Linked DNA regions of Homo sapiens: all the other regions are reported to be linked to region 1. The links are microRNA targets in miRTarBase. Many come from high-throughput screens and were not tested one by one. Region 1 holds a microRNA gene; each other region holds the end of a gene's coding sequence.

Region 1 (7,218 bases):
TTTTCCAGCTGCCTGCGCATGGGCAAGTCACCCAACTCCTCTGAGCTCCTCAAATGCTGGCTTAGCCCCTGGGAGACCCTGAGCATGCAGACACTCTGAGAACCTCAGTTTCCCTTTCAGAGTAAGGGGATGAAAACTATTGTAAGGACAGAGATAACACATGGGAAGGCTCAGCACAGTCCTGGGGCCGCGCTTCATACCAGCAGTTCCCATGCTCACATCTTCTCTTCCCCACTAGATGGTGAGGTGCCCAAGGGCAGGGATTTGTCTGCAATGTGCTCTCAAGAGCATCTCGCAGTGTTTGAGATAGAAATTCCTAAAGAGTCACGAAAGCCACTGGCAATGGCCAGATCAGCTAGGATAAGACCCCAAATTCCCATGTCCTCCTGAAGTTTGAGGTAGACAGGAGGTGCCTTCCCACTAAAGAAACACAGGAAGGTACCTCGCAGGGGTAGCTCCTGGGATTCCAGGTGCCCATCTTCCCAGCTGATGAATGGGACTCTAATGAGGGTCTCAGATGGACAGCGGCTCTCCTAGCGGCATTCTGAGTGCCTGGGGGCACCACTGGGCACCCAGAAGTTGTGCTGGCTTTTTCTGTCTCACCTCTTTGGTTTCAGTATCTGGGCTACAGGTGAAACCCTAGAGTTACGGGGCTGCCATTCCTCCCTTCCTAATGTGGAATGAAGACCTAAGCTCCCTGATCACTGCTATGGCCCCACGGCACATTTCCTGAAGGCACTGATGGGCTCTCACTTCCCGCCTCGTCTCTGAGCCCCTCAGCAGGGCACCTCACTGCTTGTAGGGCAGGAAGAGATTGACATGGAGGGTAAGGAGGGCTGCAGTAATCGCCAGAACAACCAGAGCCTGCATCTGTTGGGCAGCTGCTGGGTGCCAGGTACTGGGCTTTATGAATCTGGGCACAGGTCTCTCCAGTAAACACGGCTGCAACTCCATTTACAGAAGAGGAAACTGAGGCTTAGATAGGTTAAGAAACTTGCTTAGGGCCAGAATTTGAGCCTGTGCTGTCTTATTTAAAGGCTGGTTCTTTGAATCACCCTGAAGACTGAAGTTCATTTGTGGAATGGGTTGGAGAGTAAACAAATCCACTCCTATTGCACAATAATTGGATAAACTAAATAAATCACAACTCATTCTCCTTTTGACCCTCTGTCCCAGGACACAAAGTCGAGGTTTGGTGGAAGGTTACCTGGTAGAAAAAAAATCCAGATTCTTCAATGCATCAACAACTTCCTCCTGACAATTTCCCTCTGAATATATGGGAGTTGTCAATAGCCTGGTCAACCCTTATTAATCTCCAAGAATCTTGCCTTTATTTATTGAAGAATGATGAGTCCTCCAGAGATGCAGAGCAATCAGGGGCAAACTTTCATGAAATCTAGGTTTCCTGGGGCCTTTCTACTTCATCTGACAATTTGTAATGTCTTAGAAAGAAAGGCTGTGTCAAGAGAGGCTGCCCGTATATTCAGGATTTCTTTTTCTTTCCAGGTTTGGGTTTCGGATTTAAGCTCTACTAGTCCAGGGATCAAGTAGCTGCTATGGCTCTGTTTCATGCCCTCTCAGCTCTCAGGAGCGTCCAGCAGCCTCAGAACTGGAGCACCATGATGACAGGAGGAAAAGACAGCTGGGCTGCTAAGCAGCAGCAGAGGGGACCTCACGTGTTATAACTACACATTTGGGTGTTGCTTTGTTTAATGTCTGTCTCTGCCATGAAATGCAAGCTGTAAGGGCAGAGCCTGTGTCTTTTGCTCATTGTTCTTTCCCAGCACCTGGAACACTGCATGCACATAACAGGCCCTTAATAAAAATTTGGTGAATAAACACATGAGTTAAGAACGTATGAATAAATGAGCCCCCTCCTTTGAGAACTCTAATGTCTAATCACCAGTTGCTTCACTAAATGTAACTCCTGGCCAGGCACGGTGGCTCACGCCTGTAATCCCAGCACTTTGGGAGGCTGAGGTGGGCAGATCACTTGAGGTCAGGAGTTCGAAACCAGCCTTGCCAACATGGTGAAACCTAGTCTCTAATAAAAATACTAAAAACAAAAACCAAAAAACAAAAAAAAATTAGCTGGGCATGGTGGCAGGTGCTTGTAATCCCAGCTACTTGGGAGGCTGAGGCAGGAGAATCGCTTGAACCCGGGAGGCAGAGGTTGCAGTGAGCCAAGACTGCACCACTGCACTCCAGCCTGGGTGACAGAATGAGACTCTGTCTCAAAAAAAAAAAAAAAAAAGTAACTTCTGACATGCCAGGAATGAAGCCTCTGCCGGTTCCCCTGAGATCTGCTGACAGTGGTCACTGCTTAGGGGCAGAAAAGGCAGACGAGGGGCCAAACTAGGTATAGGGAGAGCATTTTTTCTAGATTTCTTCCCACCAAAATAGGGCAGAAAAGAAAAGAAGAAATGTACAAGTTATAAGAAATATTCAGAAGGTAATAGGGCATAAGCCCCACCTCCCCAGCCTAAGTCCTCTGGAGTCAGGGCTGGAAAACAAAGCAGAAAGGGCCTCCGGGCAGCCAAAGTTCAAACACAAAAGCTTAGGCCTTCCTCTAGAGGAAAAGGAGTCTGGGCCCTCACTGGAGCCCGCCACTGCCACCACAGGTCCTACCAGGCCCCACCGTTGGGATTTATGTAACAACTGCCTAACTTAGTCGCTTTTATCACTCTAAAGAGGGGCTCCCGCCCGGAGCTGCAGCCCTCTCACATCTTTGCCCTGGGACCCTCACTACTTCATAAGGTAGCCCCTGGCTTTTAATACCATTTACTCTCTGGGATGTAGGATTTTGGAGTAGTTTTAATGTCTGTGTGTATGAGATCTGTTTTCTACAATTATTATATAGCTCTTGTAACTCTCGTAATTAACTTCTTACCATATTAAGCCCAAATATTCCTTTCACTGTTTCTGTGTTGGTCCTGGCTTAGCCCTGGGCCACACACATGCTGCTTGTTTGCTTTCTCCTGTGACAGTCTTGTGACGGTCATTCAGATATCTGTGCCCAGATATCGGCTGCCAGGTCAAAGTTCCCCCCAGTTCTATCGACAGCCCCTCCCATGACCCTGCATCCAGATCACCTGCCTCTAAATAATGTCATTTTCTGGGTAGGGGGTGAGACCATGCATGGCCCTCCAGGAGGGGTCCAAGAGACAGTTATTAGAGTAGATCTCCAGAGATACCTGCCCTTGGTGCCCTTTTGTGACTTACTTTGAGTGACATCAGGTTCTTGAGTAATCAACAGCATATTTCAACATTCTGCAGTTTGGCCTTTAAAGACCAGAGAGTAGCTGGTGCCCAGCACGGCTAATGCGTCCCATCTAGCTTATCCGAAAGGCTCCAGGAACTGGAGGGGTCCACTGGAACCTGGGGCCTCCCTGGGACCAGACCTCACCTTCTGAGACTTTAACTCCTTGGTGAGCATCAGAACCTGTTGCTCCAAGGCTGCCACTTTCTCCTGGGCAGTTCGGTTCCGTGTGATTCCTTCAGAAAAGAATGGGAAGGTGTTGTTCTGGCGCTTGGCTTTCTGAGCGAAACTGATGGTCAGAGAAGGCTTGGGTGCAGGCTTTGGAGAATCCTCTGGCTCTCTCCCTGCTCAAGAGGAGAAACGCAGAAGTTATGACTGATGACATCAGCAGTTCTCAAACCTGAGCTTGCTTTAGAAGCACCTGGAGGGCTTGTTAAAATGCGGATGGTTGGGCCCTAATTTCGGAGCTCTGGATTTAATAGGTCTGGGGCAGGGCTTGAGAATATGCACTTCTAAAAAGTTCCTAGGTGATGCTGACACAGCTTGTCCAGGGGTTAGACTGTGAGAACCACTGGCCTACATAAACGTTATTGCACTGTGCTGGCCCATCTGCTAAACTGTGCCTGTCTCCTTCCTTCAGATCCCACCCAGCCTGCATTGGTCTATCTCATGCCACCCTGCTGGTGTTTGCCAAGTGGCTTTCTCCTCAGGCACAAGCCCTGGCAGGATGTTCTGTTCCTTATTTCAGGATCCCACCTCTATGTACTAGGAGATTTTCAAAGCACACAGATCTGTCTGATGATAGGAACACAAAATGAATGTCTGTACTCTGCATTCTTGCTCCAGAGAGCAGCTCAAGCATTTAACTTGATTCTTCTTATTCCAAGCTAAGTTAAGAGATATATTTCCCCCACAGTTGATTGTCTCAAGGATGCATAGTCCTTTTATCTCCTGGGTTACAACCTATGGTTCACAGGCCAAATCCAGCCCACAGCCTGCTTTTACAAATAAAGCTTTATTAGAACACGGCCATGCCCATTTGTTTATGTGCTGTCTATTGCTGCTTTTACTCCTCAAAGGCAGAACTGAGTGCTTAAAACAGAAACCCTATGGCCCACAAAGCCTCGAATCGTTACTATCTTGCTCTTTACAAAAAATGTTTGCCACCCACTGTTTTTAAGTCATCAAAATTTTATTCTTAAATCAAACCAAACATCAGAGAATCATTCCCTTGTGTTGCCTTGTCCTGCCCTGACCCAGCTGTGCTTCTGGTCTCTGCCATCAGCCTGCATCAAGGGACATTTAAGGGCCTGACTATGTAGCCAAGGGCCCTTGAGAAGCTTGTTCACATGGGATATATACATCATGCCTATTATGAGTCCCCAGCAGAAGAAATTCCCTTCAGCCCTAGGAACTTCCAAGAAAAGCTTTGCTTCTTATAAGAAAATATGTTTTTAGTCTTATGGACACTGGAAATAATCTAGCTGCTTGCATTTCCCTCTTTGCCTTGGCTGCTGAGCTTACAGCCACATTTACTGCCTACTCTCAGATATTTTGTAGGATCGTAAATTGATCTTATCTAAATCTCCTAACCAAATTACTCATTTGCAGGAGTATGCATTTTAGTAAACTATTACCTATTTCTTGGGACTAAAGTGTTAAAGGTGTTGAAAATAAGAATGTGGTATGGCATCCCAGGATAGGGGACACGCAGGGCTTTGGGGATAGGCCAAATGACTTAGCATGAGACCAGGCCAAGGGCTGGCCAAACAGTCTTGAACAAATAAAGAGTTACTCCAGTAGGTGACAGGAACCAGACACTGAGTGCAAAAACAGTACCTTGCTCGGCCGGGCGTGGTGGCTCACGCCTGTAATCCTAGGACTTTGGGAGGCTGAGGCGGGTAGATCACTTGAAGTCAGGAGTTCGAGACCACCCGGCCAACATGGTGAAACCCCGTTTCTACTAAAAATACAAAAATTAGCCAGAAATCACTTGAACCCGGGAGGCAGAGGTTGTAGTGAGCCGAGATCATGCCAGTGCGCTTTAGCCTGGGCAACAGAGCGAGACTCTGACTCAAAACAAACGAACAAAACAACAGTGCCTTGCTGAGTGCAAAACCAGAACAGTCTTGTTCCAGATCGAAGAGAAATCAGGTTACACTGGGTACAAGGCAGCCTGCAGAGCTCAGAAATATGTACTACCTCTTTCTCCTTCCTGTAATGGGGTATAGGGGAGCAGGGAAGCTCCTTGTAGCACTGCTGCCCTCTGATACATGACTGTGCACCAACTCTGAGGACAGGCAGGGCAGGCCTCACAGTGCCCAGTTTATAATTAGAGAAAATAAGGCCTAAGACAGTGGTGTTCAATCAGTGCCCTGGATTTCATAGGAGTGCCTCAAGGGCTGACTGGGAGAGGAAGGTGGAGTAAGAGGAGCAGAGGAGGAGTCCAGACTCCAACTCCAGCCTCAACTCTGCTTTTTTTTTTTTTTTTTTTTTTTTTAATTTGTAGCTCATTTAGAGTCTCAAAAAGAATTTAGGTGTTTTTTATTAGTGTTCAAGAAACTCATTTGTACATATTAGAAAAGATTTATTGACATAAAAATAATCTTTTCCTCCATTTAAAAATCTGATTACAACCACTGTTTAACACAGTGTAAACACCGTTTAACACAGTTTAACACAGTGTTGAGATATTCAACACTTTATTAGAAAATAGGTTTTGTGTTAGATGATTTTGCCCAAATGTATGTGTTCCAAGCATGGTTAAGATAGACTGGGCAAAACTATACTGTTCAATAGGTTAAGTATATTAAATGCATTTTCAACTTATGATATTTTCAACTTATGGTGGATTTATCTGCTTTATATATTAGATTTTGTTCTGTCACTCACTCTGTGGCCGTGAGCAAGTCACTCCACCCTTCCATGCCTCAGTTTCCTTATTAATCTAATGAGGATAACAACAATATATACAATATATACAGTTCCAGTTGCTGTAAGAATTAAATAGGTCAAGGTAGGTAAAGTGCTTGGTACACACAGATGAAACTTGAAAAGATTCTACTAAGTCAAAGAAGCCAGTCACAGCATGGTATATTCCTTGGTATATTCCACTCACAGCAGATGTCGAGAACAGGCACAGCCATAGAGAAAGAAAGATGAGTGGCCACCTAGGGTTATGGGGCAGTGGGGATTAAGGTTGATGACTAAGGGTGCAGGTTTCTTTTTGGGGTAATAAAAATGTTCTAAAATTGATTATAGTGACGGCTGCATAATTCTGAGGATATACAGAAAGCCACTGAATTACACATTTTAAATGGGTGAATTGTATAGTACATGAATATATCTTAATAAAGTTGTTGCCAAAAAAAATGCTTACTGCCGCACTGGCATGAAGTAACTGCTAGTGTTATGATGATGGTGACTCATCCGATATAGCACTGGCCTTCTCTTGGACTGCTTGTTGTGCTCTCTAGGGCTCTGCCAGGCACTGACTGCTCCAAAGGGTGCTTTTTCTTTTCTTCTTTCTCTTTTTCTGTTTTTTTTTTTGACAGTGTCTCACTCTGTCACCCATGCATGATCACGGCTCACTGCAGCCTCGACCTCCCTGGCTCAAGTGATCCTCCCAGCTGAGCATCCCAAGTAGCTGGGACTACAGGCTTGCACCATGATCAGCTAATTTTTTTATTTTTTTGTAAAGACAGGGTCTCCCTGTGTTGCCCAGGCTTGTCTTGAACTCCTGGGCTCAAGCAATCCTCCAGCCTTGGCCTCCCAAAGTGCTGGGATTACAAGCGTGAGCCACCATGCCCAGCCTCTTCTTAATTTTTTACTCTGAAAAAATTATAGACTCACAGGAAGTTGCAAAGATAGTGCAGACATGTCCCAAGTACTCTTCACCAAGCTTCCCCTGATGGTGACATCTTACATAGCTATAGTACACTATCAACTCTAGGAAACTG
Region 2 (7,218 bases), not on the chromosome of region 1:
ACCACAATTCTATCTCGCTGCAATTTGACTGCCTTGACTTCTGTAGCAAATTCTATTTCATTAACAGTCTTCTTTTTCAGTCATCTCAGATCATCACTTTGTTGGGAAGGTATTTTGGCTTTTTTCCACCAACAACTAAAGCTAAATAGTTGCAGCAAAATAACATTTCATTATGACCAACTCTTCCTCCTAGAAATTTGTTTCTCTTTTTATTTTAATGGATTGGTGTTATAGACTCAGAATCCGTTTTCCATCCCACAAGCAAGGCATCCGTGGTCTTGGCTGAAGCCGGTGTAGAGCAGCTAGTTACTGTGGGAGTTACAGGGTAGGAGGATCATGGCGCCACTGGGCTGGCCCTCCCATTCTCAGCGAGCTGCCTGGGGAGGCTGGCTGGCTGGTCCGGTCCCACCAGGCTGGTGCTAAGGCCGCCCCAGGAATGGAAGTTTCATAGTATTGTCTTTATGAAGACAAATTTCTCTCAAGCCTGAGCACCATTTGCCCTGAACAAACATGTTTGTTTTTATCTTCTGGAAATTGTGAATTTGTTGACTGTATGTTTACCGCCCCGCCCCTCCTCCCCCGTTTTTTTTTTTTTTGTTTTGTTTTGTTTTTGTTTTTGTTTTTGTTTTTGAGATGGAGTCTCACTCTGTCGCCCAGGCCGGAGTGCAGTGGCGCGATCTCCGCTCACTGCAAGCTCCGCCTCCCAGGTTCACGCCATTCTCCTGCCTCAGCCTCCCGAGTAGCTGGGACTACAGGCCCCCGCCACCATGCCCGGCTAATTTTTTGTATTTTTTAGTAGAGACGGGGTTTCACCGTGTTAGCCAGGATGATCTCGATCTCCTGACCTCGTGATCCGCCCACCTCGGCCTCCCATGTTTCCCCCTTTTGAAGATACCAGCATGCTCAGATTCAAATTTTAGGTCCACCTCTGACAAAATGCCTAGAATGTTATCATGTGACCCCACTCTGTTTATTGTATACATATTTTCCCTCCCCTCAAATGTTGTTTCTCCCTATTAAGGGGTTGTTATACTCCCAATAAATATATAAACCTACTATGTACCCACAAAAATTAAAAAATAAAAATTTAGAGGAAAAAAGATATTGTTATAGTACTAGATATACTTTTGCAGGCCCACATTTTAAAAAATGAATAAAGGTGAGAATAACTCAAAATTTAGTAGCTGTAATAAGAGAAAAAAATAGCTTGCTTTCTGAAAAAGCTACAAGGAAAATACAATTCATAAGTTCCAGACAACACCACCAGCTACCAACATAACAAATCTTTCAGCCTAAGGGCAGGTCCCTTCTCTCATCCATCTGCCTTTGGCGTAGTTACAATGACAGAGATGGTACCTCAGCAGGCTGGCACCTTTTCTTGCTCAATGTTTGCTTTTAATTTTTATTTCATTTTTTAAAAATTTTTATTTTTTTGAGACGGAGTCTCACTCTGTCACCCAGGCCGCTGTGCAGTGGCAGGATTTCCGCTGACTTCAACCTCCGCCTCCCAGGGATCAAGCAATTCTCCTGCCTCAGCCTCCCGAGTAGCTGGGATTACTAGTGCACACGACCATGCCTGGCTAATTTTTATATTTTTAGTAGAGATGGGGTTTCGCCATGTTGGCAAGGCTGGTCTCGAACTCCTGACCTCAAGTGATCCACCCACCTTGGCCTCCCAAAGTGCTGGGATTACAGGCATGAGCCACCACACCTGGCCAATGTTTGCTTTTTAAACAAAGCAAAGAAAATTGAGATGAATTGTTCCAAAACGTTTTAATTATCATGAATATCATAAGTCATACAAAAAAATAAAGAATAATACAACCAACACTCATGCACCTGCCATCCTATAGCTTAAACATACTATATCACATCTGACTATTACCTAGTCTGTCTTTCCCCAATTAGTGATGCCTCTATAGTGAGATCTATAAATGTTGGTTCTGTTTCTTTTGTTTCTGAAACTCTAGAACCTGTTCAGTACATATTGAATAAAAAAGCAACTTTTCACTGAAAGAGAAGGATAAGCGGACATCTTTCAACAGCAGAAAATGTATATCACTGCCTGTTCTTCTCCATCCACAAGGCTGAGGAGGGGATGAGGCTGACTCTCAATGGGGAGAAGTCAGCACCGCCACCCTCCTTAAAGGATTCTTGATGCTCACCAAACTATGCAAAAGAAAACCTCTCTTCTGGCTAAAAGGACCATGACGCGAATGCCCAGAAAGACAAGTTATTGTCTGTTCTCACCAAGTTTTTTTAAAAAAGGACTTTTTGTGACTCTAACACCAAGGTTTGGTGTTAGAATTAAATTCAAGGGACATGACATTGTCTTTGATTTTGTTATACACTTTGAGAAGCACATAAGGCTGAACTCCAGGAGATAAGAACCAAGGAGGGGACATAAAATCATAAATGTCCATAAACTCTGAATATGAAGCCACTCTACAGATACACAAAGTACATTTTTAGCTGAAACTTCATACAAGAAATATTGAAGGTAGACACTAAAGAAAAAATGCATTTAAAATTCATTTTAAATTAATAAAATATATTTAATTAATATTCAATCAATTAATGATAAAAATAGGGGCAGCTTTAAATAGTCTGTCAACAAATTTTGAGTATTGTCTGCTGACACTAGAGATATACTGGCACAGGACTTGTCCTCATGGAGCTTACAGTCTAGTGAAAACAGATCAATGTTAAATCAGTAATTATAAGTAGATAACCAAATAATAGTGCTGTAAAGGAGAGGATCTGCATTAAAATGTCTGAAATCAAAAGCTGGGCACAGTGGCTCACACTTGTAATCCCAGAACTTTGGGAGGCTGTGGCGGGAGGATGGCTTGAGCCCAGGAATTCAAAACTAGCCTGGGCAACAAAGTGAGATGCCATCTCTACCAAAAAGAAAAAAAAGAAAAAAAAAATTAGCTGGATGTGGTGATGTGTGCCTGTAGTCCCAGCTACTTGGGAGGCTGAGGCAGGGGAATCGCTTGAGCCCAAGAGGTCAAGGCTGCAATGATCTGTGATCATGCCACTGCACTCCAGCCTGGGTGACAGAGTGAGACCCTGTCTCAAAAAAACAAAAAGCCTGAAATCAGTCATGAAAGTATCTACTGCAAAAGGTGACATAGACGTGGATAAGAAAAACATATTCTTGATGACAAAAGTGACCTAATTTTTTTTTTTTTTTTTTTGAGATGGAGTCTTGCTCTGTCACCAGGCCGGTGTGCAGTGGCATGATCTCGGCTCACTGCAACCTCCGCCTCCCGGGTTCAAGCGATTCCCCTGCCTCAGCCTCCCAAGTAGCTGGGACTACAGGTGCATGCCACCATGCCCAGCTAATTTTTTGTATTTTAGTAGAGACGGGGTTTCACCGTGTTAGCCAGGATGGTCTCGATCTCCTGACCTCATGATCTGCCCACGTCAGCCTCCCAAAGTGCTGGAATTACAGGTGTGAGCCACCGCACCTGGGCAAGTGACCTAATTTTTGTAGAGCATGCCTTCTTACTTGTTTTCCATCATAATTAATATGATGCATTTGTCAGCGGAAGGTCTTGGAAATGGGGCAATGTGCCATCTGGAAAGTTCCCTCCTGCATGAAACTGGCCTGAGTAGGTGGATAAATCCATTACTTTAGGGCATTGTTCTCCTATCAGTTAGCTGATGAGGACAAGTCCACTCATATGATGTGGCAGTGCTGAGTCTTTGAAGAGGTTGCGTTTTTAATAAACAGTTCAAAACAATAAACCCCACCCCACCCCACCTAACTTCATTTGCCTCTTCTTTCGGTGATCTCAGGAACCAGAGTCAGAGTTGTACTTTTTACCCTTAACTCTTCACAGCACGTGAGTGTGCAATCATTAGGCTCCATCTCAACAATCCTTGAGAACAGAGCACACCTCATCTTTCAAATCTCACCTAGTGCTGGGAACAACACAAAGTCCTACAAATGTGATAATGAAACAAACTGACCCTGAATCCCACAGGCTCTGAACAGATACATTAGGGAAGCCTGAGCCTGGAGCCTGCTCTCCAACTGAGCAGCAGGAGAGATGGGGTGGCACAGGCTTTCAAAAGATGCAGTGGGCTGCAGCAGGCAGACATTTGGGGGAGAAGTGACTGGAAAAATACAACCATCCAGGGGGAAGATGATGAAGGGACTGGGTTCACACATGGACAGCAGGCTTCAGAAGGACGCCAGCAGAATGAATGTGGAGTGGATGTACTCACTCTGCATTGCTCCAGAGGACAGGGTAAGACCCCAGGCTGGAAGTCATGCAGAAGCAGATAAGGCACACACAAGCTCCGCACAGGGAGAAACTTCTTAGAAACTCAGCGGGATGGGTAACTTCATTAGAGAATGAGATTTCCTCACTGGACATTTTCATCTGGAGGCTGCAGGAGCAGTGGTCAAAGATGATACAGACAGGATTCCTGAATGCCAAAGTTCCTCCCTCGATAGGATTTGGAGGCTCTCGGGTGATGGACCAACACCATCCTGTGGGCTTGTGGAGGGGAGGATGACAACCTGCATAAGCACAGCCATCACTGAGTGTAACTTCAGGCTCGTGAGCCATCCTCAGTGCATCAACTCAGTGGGGGATGAGGACGGAGGCCAGGGATGGGAAGCAACAGGAAAGGAATTGCTGGCCTGTGCCTTTGCTCAGAATATAAATATTCTGGTAGAAACTCCCCTCAAGGAATGTGGTCACAAGTTACCCTCTGGGCCCCTGAGCATAAACCCACACCATCATGTACATGGGAGGAGAGGAGCACCTTCTCATACCCAGGATCACTGGGCATAGACTCCCTTCCTCACTACAAACGGGTTGGAGAGATCCAAAGATGCTCTCTAAAAACAAAGTAACAATGTGAGAAAATGGCAAAATAGGGACCCGCAGTAAGTTCAATCTTCCCAGTGAACTTCATTAAAAATTTCATCTGATTACAAGTGATTATACTTCAAATACCTACAGGAGCCTCACTGGATGTGGGTGCAGCATTCGTTCCTGAGGCCTCAGAAGTGCTCTCCTGAGCACAGCCAGTGCAAATTTGCAGGGTGAGAAGTCAAAGGCAGAAGGAAGCAGGTGAGAGCATTCCCTGCCTCTAAAGAAAAAGAGCTCTCCTTATTCAAAACATCAAGTTCTACTGAACCAAGTTGCAGATCTTAACAATAATAGAGATCACTGTAAAAGAGAAACTTTATGCTAAAAATTTTTTTTAGGAGGTAACATCCTGGTGTTTCTCAGATGCAGGTAAATCATGACCTTCCACATTCTCTTTCAACACAGGGAGCACCTGAGATCCTACAGACAGGAAACATGGGGAGGATAAATCCAATGATGCATGCATCAGGTACATGCCAAAGTTCACCTGTGAACAAAACAGCAACAACAACAAAAAAGGCTAGATTATTTTAGCAATTAAAATAACTTTGTAAATATTAATGTTTAACTAAAATCAAGTCAGATTTTTAAAGACATATACTGAGACTTGATATCTCCTATCTGTTACACAGTAGAATGCACTGGAACATTAAGAGAATCCTAACTTTAGACCCCAAAGATTCTCATTCTAAGGCATCCTTTCCCTGTGGTCACCCCACACCTCTTTCTTGCTGGGCACATCTCTGTCCCACATGCCCTGAACTTCCTGCAGAAGGACTTTCTTCCTACTCTCAGCTTGTGACCACCATCAGGCCCATTTCCTGTTTGCTGCCTGATGTAAAAGCCTTTTGGGGAAGACAGTGGCAGAACTCTGCATTTTCCTTGAGAAAGAATGATGCAAGTTAATTTTGTCAAATTCTCCTGAATAAGGATGGAAGGTCCAAAATGAAGAGTAGGTAAGTCTGCTCAATGTTAACCATCAATGCAAGTGAACCACTCAGGACCCTTTGGAGGACTTGACATGCTCTCCGATCTGTTAGTTCTTGTGATAACATCTGTTGGACACCCTCATGTTCCAGGCCCCAGGCTAGGGGATTGGGCCAATTCCTCATGATTTGTACAAATGTGGGTGAAAAGTGCAGCCTCTGCACTCTCACTGCAACTGTTCCGTAAATCTAAAATTATTCCAAAATTTAAAAATAAAAGGTTCATCATGCACATGAAAATTGCAGTGATGCTGAGAAACACTATTTTCATGGACCTTAGTATTGTATTTGTGCCTTCTTCTTTCTTCTCCTGGCAACCTGCATGGTGCAGGCTCAAGGTCCCCACACCCCAGACAACACAGCCTGCATTGACAGACATGCTGCTGTAACAGTCAAATGCACTACTCTGCAGGCCATTTCTATCCCATATTGGTAAGAAAACTTACATAAATCAAATGTCTATACTGTGAAACAAAACCCTGGCTTTGAAGAAACACAGGAAACAATGTAGCACATTTTACCATGAATTAACTTGCCAGCTTATTATTGGAAGTAGATACAGTGTTTGCATTATTTCTGTTAATTTTCAAGAATTGTTCTATGTAGCCTGACTGCTTTTCTTGGCTTCCTGGAATTCTTTGAAAACAAAAAGTCCTAACAGAAAGTATAAGCCTGAAAATAAATCTTTCTAAAGAATCAACACATTGGAAGTTCAGTTTCTATAATCTGGAATTCATAACAACACTTTGTTGTTTTAACCCTCAAGAAAATGAATTTCCAGGCTTAATGAATGTATTTCCAGTTTAATGAAATGTACTGACTCTTTCTATGCAGCTACTCTATTCACATTAAGGCACTTTACTCTTCATGAGCTCTCTGTGTTAAAGAAAATAATGATCAAGACAACAGAATTACTTGTTTTTTTTGTACTCCATATCTCTTCAACAAGATTGGAAAGCATAAAAATACATGAAGTAAAACAAAAAAAAGTGAGAACTTGGATGGAAAGGAAAAATAAAATGAAACTACAAACAAGGATAGGTTAATGGCAGCCCAACAGCTTTGGATGGGCAGCAAATCCCCCATTTAAAAAAATAACTCTGTGCTATTATGAACATAGTTCTGGTATTGATAACACCAGGATTGGAAACCAGGTGTCATATTTTGCAATCACGCTTACCTTTGTTTCACGACTCTCAGAAAGTTTTTGGAAAACATGCTGGTTTCGTTGCCCAGTTTGCTGGTCGATGCAAATCATCTGGCATCTGTGACAAGGCCCCAAAACCTGGCAGGTGAGAAGGAAAACACAGCGTTGCCACAAAAGTGACCAGAGCCTTGCA
Region 3 (7,218 bases), not on the chromosome of region 1:
GAAAAGGAAAATATGTATGCATGTAACTCAAAATATAATAGCTACCAAAAAATGTTTTCCCTTCTCCAGAGGCAAGTGGTAGCAGTTTCTAGAGATATTCTGTGCGTACCAGCAAATATATATGTGTGCTCTCCTTTTGAAACCCAAATGATAGCATCCTATATGAAATGTTGCATGCTTTTTTCAAACATAGATATAGATTCACACACATACACACATATGCTTTTCTTTTTTTTTTTTTCTTTTGAGAGACAGCGTCTTGCTCTGTTACCCCAGGCTGGAGTGCAGTGGCGTGATTATAGCTCACGGCAGCCTCAAACTCCTGGGCTCAAGTGATCCTCTCACTTCAGCCTCCTGAGTAGCTGGGAATATGGGCTGTAGCTACCATGTCTGGCTAACTTTTTCCCCCACTTTTTGTTTGTTTGTTTGTTTGTTTGTTTTGTTTTGTTTTAGAGACAGGGTCTTACTATGTTGCCCAGGCTGGAGTGCAGTGGTGTGATCATAGCTCACCACGGCCTTGAACTTCTGGGCTCAAGTGATCCTCCAGCCTCAGCCTCCTGAATAGCTGCGACTACAGGCTCAAGCCACCATCTGTCTGATTCCCACCCCCACCCCCGGCCCTTTTTATTTTTTTTAGAGACATAATGTCGCTATGTTGCCCAGGCTGGTCTTGAACTCCTGGGCTCAAGCAATCCTCCCACCTTGGCCTCCCAAAATGCTGGGATTACAGGCGTGAGTCACCACGCTCAGCCCACACATGTGTATATATAAATTGTTTTTCTGGAAGGCTACACAGAAAGTGTTCACAGTGGTTGCCTTCCAGAAGAACTTTGAACTTTTGGAAATGTTTAAATCATGTGCATGAATGATCTGTGTAATTTTAGGTTTGCGATCGAGGAGAGGGATGGGTGTGGAAGACCAGGGGCTCCCCCAGGCAGGGCATGGCTCAAGTGCTTGGTGCCTCCTTAGCAGGCTAAGCAGGTCAAGGAGCCACCTTTCTGCCATTTGGGGCTGATTTTCTGGGTGGCATTCTCCTTCTGATGCCACCTGCAGTTCACCTGCTGGTAAAGAAAGAAGGAAACACCATCCATATGGCTTCTTATCCCTCCCAATTGACCGATGAAACTGTGTATGTGCATGTGTGTGTATCACATGCTTACAGCATCGCAGGTACACACACGGCTTTGGGATTTTCCAGTGAGTTTCACTCCCTGGCTTCCCCAGGCTCTGGAGCGGGTGCTGCCCTGCCAAGCACTCACTGCTAGCTGCTGAAGGGGATAGCCCAGGGGCTGCAGATTCCCATTTGCATCATGCAAGGTGAGCACAGCAACTTCTGGCCTCGGATGGCTAACACTCCTCCTTATTTCACTCCTAGGTCTGGGACCAGTCTTCAGTATAAATCTCAGCCAGAAAAACCAACTCCTCATCTTGATCTGCAGGAAAACACCAAACACACTATGGAACTCTGCTGATGGGGACCCAAGCGCCCACGTGCTCAGCCACCCTCTGGCTCAGCGGGGCCCAGACCCACCTCGGCACGGACACCCCTGTCTCCAGGAGGGGCAGGTGGCTGAGGCTCTTCGGAGCTGTCAGCGCCCGGTGCCTGCCCTGGGCACCTCCCTGCAGTCATCTCTTTGCACTTTGTTACTCTTTCAAAGCATTCACAAACTTTTGTACCTAGCTCTAGCCTGTACCAGTTAGTTCATCAAAGGAAACCAACCGGGATGCTAACTACAACATGGTTAGAATCCTAATTAGCTACTTTAAGATCCTAGGATTGGTTGGTTTTTCTTTTTTTTTTCTCTTTGTTTCTTTCCTTTTTTTTTTTTTTTTTTTAAGACAACAGAATTCTTAATAGATTTGAATAGCGACGTATTTCCTGTTGTAGTCATTTTTAGCTCGACCACATCATCAGGTCTTTGCCACCGAGGCATAGTGTAGAACAGTCCCGGTCAGTTGGCCAACCTCCCGCAGCCAAGTAGGTTCATCCTTGTTCCTGTTCATTCTCATAGATGGCCCTGCTTTCCCCAGGGTGACATCGTAGCCAAATGTTTACTGTTTTCATTGCCTTTTATGGCCTTGACGACTTCCCCTCCCACCAGCTGAGAATGTATGGAGGTCATCGGGGCCTCAGCTCGGAGGCAGTGACTTGGGGCCAAGGGACCTCGAGACGCTTTCCTTCCCCACCCCCCAGCGTCATCTCCCCAGCCTGCTGTTCCCGCTTTCCATATAGCTTTGGCCAGGAAAGCATGCAATAGACTTGCTCGGAGCCCAGCACTCCTGGGTCTCGGGGTCGGGGAGGGGACGGGGGCACCCACTTCCTTGTCTGTGACGGCGTGTTGTTCCCCACTCTGGGATGGGGAAGAGGCCCGTCGGGAGTTCTGCATGGCAGTTCACTGCATGTGCTGCCCCCTTGGGTTGCTCTGCCAATGTATTAATACCATCCCATAGCTCCTGCCAAATCGAGACCCTCTGACGACTTGCCGACTAACTGGCCACCACAAGCTGCAGTCTGTAGCACTGAACAAACAAAAAACAAAACGCTCAAGCCTTACGACCAGAGAAGGATTTCAGCAAACCACCACCTCCCACTCAGTGTCCCCTCCAAACTTCACACTTCCCTGCCTGCAGAGGATGACTCTGTTCACACCCAATCCAGCGCGGTTCTACCCCACGAAACTGTGACTTTCCAAATGAGCCTTTCCCTAGGGCTAGACCTAAGACCAGGAAGTTTGAGAAAGCAGCCGCAGCTCAACTCTTCCAGCTCCGCCAGGGTTGGGAAGTCCTTAGGTGCAGTGCGGCTCCCACTGGGTCTGCGGACCCTCCTATTAGAGTACGAAATTCCTGGCAACTGGTACAGAACCAACCTAGAGGCTTTGCAGTTGGCAAGCTAACTCGCGGCCTTATTTCTGCCTTTAATCTCCCACAAGGCATCTGTTGCTTTGGGTCCTCCACGACTCTTAGGCCCGCCTCAACAACCCAGGCACCTCCTAGGTAGGCTCAAAGGTAGACCCGTTTCCACCGCAGCAGGTGAACATGACCGTGTTTTCAACTGTGTCCACAGTTCAGATCCCTTTCCAGATTGCAACCTGGCCTGCATCCCAGCTCCTTCCTGCTCGTGTCTTAACCTAAGTGCTTTCTTGTTTGAAACGCCTACAAACCTCCATGTGGTAGCTCCTTTGGCAAATGTCCTGCTGTGGCGTTTTATGTGTTGCTTGGAGTCTGTGGGGTCGTACTCCCTCCCCTCCCGTCCCCAGGGCAGATTTGATTGAATGTTTGCTGAAGTTTTGTCTCTTGGTCCACAGTATTTGGAAAGGTCACTGAAAATGGGTCTTTCAGTCTTGGCATTTCATTTAGGATCTCCATGAGAAATGGGCTTCTTGAGCCCTGAAAATGTATATTGTGTGTCTCATCTGTGAACTGCTTTCTGCTATATAGAACTAGCTCAAAAGACTGTACATATTTACAAGAAACTTTATATTCGTAAAAAAAAAAAGAGGAAATTGAATTGGTTTCTACTTTTTTATTGTAAAAGGTGCATTTTTCAACACTTACTTTTGGTTTCAATGGTGGTAGTTGTGGACAGCCATCTTCACTGGAGGGTGGGGAGCTCCGTGTGACCACCAAGATGCCAGCAGGATATACCGTAACACGAAATTGCTGTCAAAAGCTTATTAGCATCAATCAAGATTCTAGGTCTCCAAAAGTACAGGCTTTTTCTTCATTACCTTTTTTATTCAGAACGAGGAAGAGAACACAAGGAATGATTCAAGATCCACCTTGAGAGGAATGAACTTTGTTGTTGAACAATTAGTGAAATAAAGCAATGATCTAAACTAATGTGTGCTTTAGTGCAATGACCTCTTCTTTTTTTGAGAGACTGTGAAAGAAAAACTATCACCAGCGTGTCAGTGTAGGTGTATTATCATGGATGGGACCTTCTTTACGTTGTGGGGAGGGTTTTCCTCTGGAGTGGGATAGAGGAAGCCACGTGGTGGTTAGGGCACACTGCTATCCTGGAATTAAGCGATTGGTGACATTCTCTGCCAAGAGTTTGACTGTGGAAATTTGGTCAATACTTCCAGTGAACCATGAACTGGCTATTAAGGTCATTTTATAGGACTGCAGAGCTGGAAAGCTCTTCAAGCAGTCACACAGGACATTTGGAAAGGATTACTGAAGAATGGATTACCCAGTTCTATAATCAGCTAACCAGGAACAGGTCAGCTCAAGATATCTTTCATCTATTAAAAGGCCAACTACAATTTAATAATGTAGATTTCTTTGTAGAGAAGAATTCAAATCAAAGGTAATTAAAAATGAAAATACTTCCATTTTTAAGTAGAGGAACTTTTACAGTCTGCAAGATAAATTTTTTCTCATTCTTTAGTTTGTTAGTATAAACTTGCTCGATCCAGACAAACGGGTTTTGGCAAATGGTGATGTTTTTGTTTTCATGGTTCCTGTGGGTTGTAGTCTTTGAATTTTTATTTTCTAATGAAGTCGTCTGACCACGGTCAAAATTGGACTCGCAGAGTCGTATCTGTCTTTGTTGCTTGTGATGGGAACCACAGATGCAATTCTGTTCTTTTCGATGTTACTGTTGGGCATGAAAATCTGCCACAAGGTCGTAGTTGTAAGAATGAAAATAATTCAGAAGATGAAGTGGTGAAATGTGAACCTTTCTTTCCTTGTAGCATTAGAAAAACATCTGTTAAATATCAACCAAGCATTTCAGTGATTGTCTAGAGGATTGTGGGAGGTCACAGAAAACTTCCAAAGCTAAGTCAACATAGTTTGGTTTCAAAAGGAAGTGCCAAGGAAGAGTGTTTGAACCCTAAGGAATAGCCCGAAAGAAACAACCAACCAATTCCACAGCCACACCGTAAAATGAGGCCTAACTCTTCATGCTGGCCACTCCTGTTTCATAAGCACAAAATTAGATGTCATGTTTTCTGCGCTTACAACTTAATTGTCACCGGACTAAAGAGGTTGATTGCATAGCAAATTCCATAACCATGGAACTTTAGGATTTGGAGGGTTAGGCCAAAAGAGAATTTGCTTAATAGGACTGTCTTCAGAATTGGACCTCTTGAATGTGATTTGCTATAGAAAGCATTCGTGGGGGCCAGCTCAGATTCCATTCTCAGAATACAGTGGTTACACTGGCTTGTTCCACTGGTTCTAAGCCATGGGGAGATTTTGCTTCCCTCCTCCCAGAGGACATTTGACAATGTCTGGAGACATTTTTGGTTGTCACAACTCGGGAGTACTACTGGTATCCAATGGGTGGAGGTCAGAGATGCTGCTCAACATCCTACAAGGCAAAGGACAGCCCCCCACTGTAAAGCATTATCTGGCCCAAAGCCTCAATAGTGCCAAGGTTGAGAAACCGTGGTCTGTTCTAGTTTTAGTCCCATGTCTTCCTTGGCAATTTAAATACTGCTAATGATGTCTAAAGCATGTAGACCGTGGCTCTAGGCCTACAGTGTTAAATGAGAAAAATAGTTTCTTATTTGCCCACTCAAATGCTGAAGCTGTTTCCTGAAGCTGGGGAGGGTGGGGGTAGTGGAAATAGAGTCCAGTGTTGATCACTTTGTTTTCCCTTGAGTCTGTTAATGATGAACGGAACTCTATTTGCCCTAGAGAGATTGTTAGAGGTAGATGAAAGAACCTTGAAAATGACTTTATTACTCTGCATAAGTCAGGCTGTCTTTCAGAGAGCCACAAAAAAGGAAACAAAAAATCGACCAAGGGTATACACATCTTGGCCTGTTCTCACTGGCCACTGAGTATTTCAGATGGGATGGGTGAATTCTTTTAGGGGGAGGTAGCAGTAAGAGCTGGCATCCTCATCTGGGGAAAGGCTCTTTAGTTGTATGAAAGACAAGACGACAATGTAGTTGTGGGAGCCCACCCTGAGGGCAGAGCCTGGTGGCTCGTTCTAGAGCCAGTGGCTGGGGTCCCAGAGACGGGGCTCCGGCTGCTGCTCCAGCTTTTGGGATCTTCTCCAAATGTCTGACTCACTATAGTGACGATGACTCTTAGGAGGATCCTGTGGATGTTTTTACAATTAATAGGGATGACTGGGGTTTTAGAAGAAATGTATACGTATCTACAACTTCCATGTTTTCTCCTGAAGACAATTATAGTTGGCATACCAGGGCAGAAGGCTCTAGTTTGTTTCTCCACTAATTTGCTGGCCAAGATGAGTGCTGAAGCTTTTATTCCTCAGAAACTTTATGATTTGATGAGTGGTCCATGTCTTGGGTCTTCATCAATTCATTCAAACCATTTGTAAACATTGGTGGATGTCTTAGCCCATTTAGTGCTGCTTTAACAAAATACCTGAGAATGGGTAATTTATAAAGAACAAAAATTCATTCTCTCACAGTTCTGGAGGCTGGGAAGTCCAAGATTAAGGCATGGGCAGGTTTGCTTGTCTAGTGAGGGCTACTCTCTGCTTCCCAGATGGCGCCTTGTGCTTGGGTCCTCTGCAGGGGAGAAAAGCTGTGTGTCCTCACATGGCAGAAGGTGCCAGGGCACATGAGCTGAATGCTGCCTGAAGCCTCTTTGATAAGAACCTCAATTTCATTCATGAGAGGAGGGGCTCTCATGACCTAATCTCTTCTTAAAGGCCCTACCTCTTAATACTATCACATTGGGGACATTTGAATTTTGAAGGTGACACAATAGCAGAGGAGGATCAGATATGGGAAGTAAATGCTTGAAAGTGAAACTGTGCTCATACAAAAGGAACTGAATTAAAATGAAATTTTGTTCTTTCCTAGACTGGCTCGTTCAGTCTCTGACCTCAGCCACAGATCGTATCATGATGTTCCAGGTTTTTTCTCTCAGTCTTTTAGGAGCCTTGGAGATTTCCTAATTGAGCTAGCTGAGGTGCAGGCACAATTTTCTTGTCTGGCCTTTTGACTTCCTGTTTGTGGCCTTAGCCCTGCAATACTGATTTACATTTTAGTAATTTTTTAGGCTTTAATTTGGCTCTATAAATTCATCTGTATATCAGCTTCTAGAGGGAAAAATGTATCTTCATTGAAAAGCAATTTGAGTTAAGCTTTAACTAAGTCCTCACCCATAAAGGAAATGCTAATGAAGAAAGGATTACTTGGTCATAGGACACGATTTGACATATGGCTTTGCCCCTGTGATTTGGGCAAAACAAGGTCTCCTTTTCCACCTTTGTAAAATCACCATTAA

What was found. Region 1 holds the annotated microRNA hsa-miR-6854-3p (UGCGUUUCUCCUCUUGAGCAG, at 3,604-3,624, opposite strand). A microRNA usually pairs through its seed, bases 2 to 8, with sites in the 3' UTR of a target mRNA and lowers its output. Matches are read on the target gene's strand: a 7mer-m8 pairs with bases 2 to 8, a 7mer-A1 pairs with bases 2 to 7 and ends in A, and an 8mer does both.
Region 2: miRTarBase lists MOCOS as a target of hsa-miR-6854-3p. Seed matches in the 3' UTR shown: 7mer-A1 at 3,722-3,728.
Region 3: miRTarBase lists CIT as a target of hsa-miR-6854-3p. Seed matches in the 3' UTR shown: 7mer-m8 at 3,147-3,153.

The regions. Positions count from the first base shown.
Region 1 is chr9:98,225,546-98,232,763 of GRCh38, forward strand. It overlaps MIR6854 (microRNA 6854), which reads right to left and starts at 3,672; the gene lies at 3,604-3,672. It overlaps TBC1D2 (TBC1 domain family member 2), which reads right to left. Exons shown (of 13, transcript NM_001267571.2): 5 at 3,407-3,603.
Region 2 is chr18:36,266,694-36,273,911 of GRCh38, reverse strand. MOCOS (molybdenum cofactor sulfurase) reads right to left here. Exons shown (of 15, transcript NM_017947.4): 14 at 7,059-7,163; 15 at 1,755-5,379. The coding sequence ends at 5,227. It also overlaps the pseudogene LOC791126. Among named protein-coding and RNA genes, the nearest start is that of FHOD3, 27 kb to the left of the region's middle.
Region 3 is chr12:119,682,413-119,689,630 of GRCh38, reverse strand. It overlaps CIT (citron rho-interacting serine/threonine kinase), which reads left to right. Exons shown (of 48, transcript NM_001206999.2): 48 at 1,376-3,840. The coding sequence ends at 1,399. It overlaps LOC124903033 (a long non-coding RNA gene), which reads left to right and starts at 4,145. Exons shown (of 2, transcript XR_007063485.1): 1 at 4,145-4,309. RefSeq lists an enhancer at 1,011-1,881.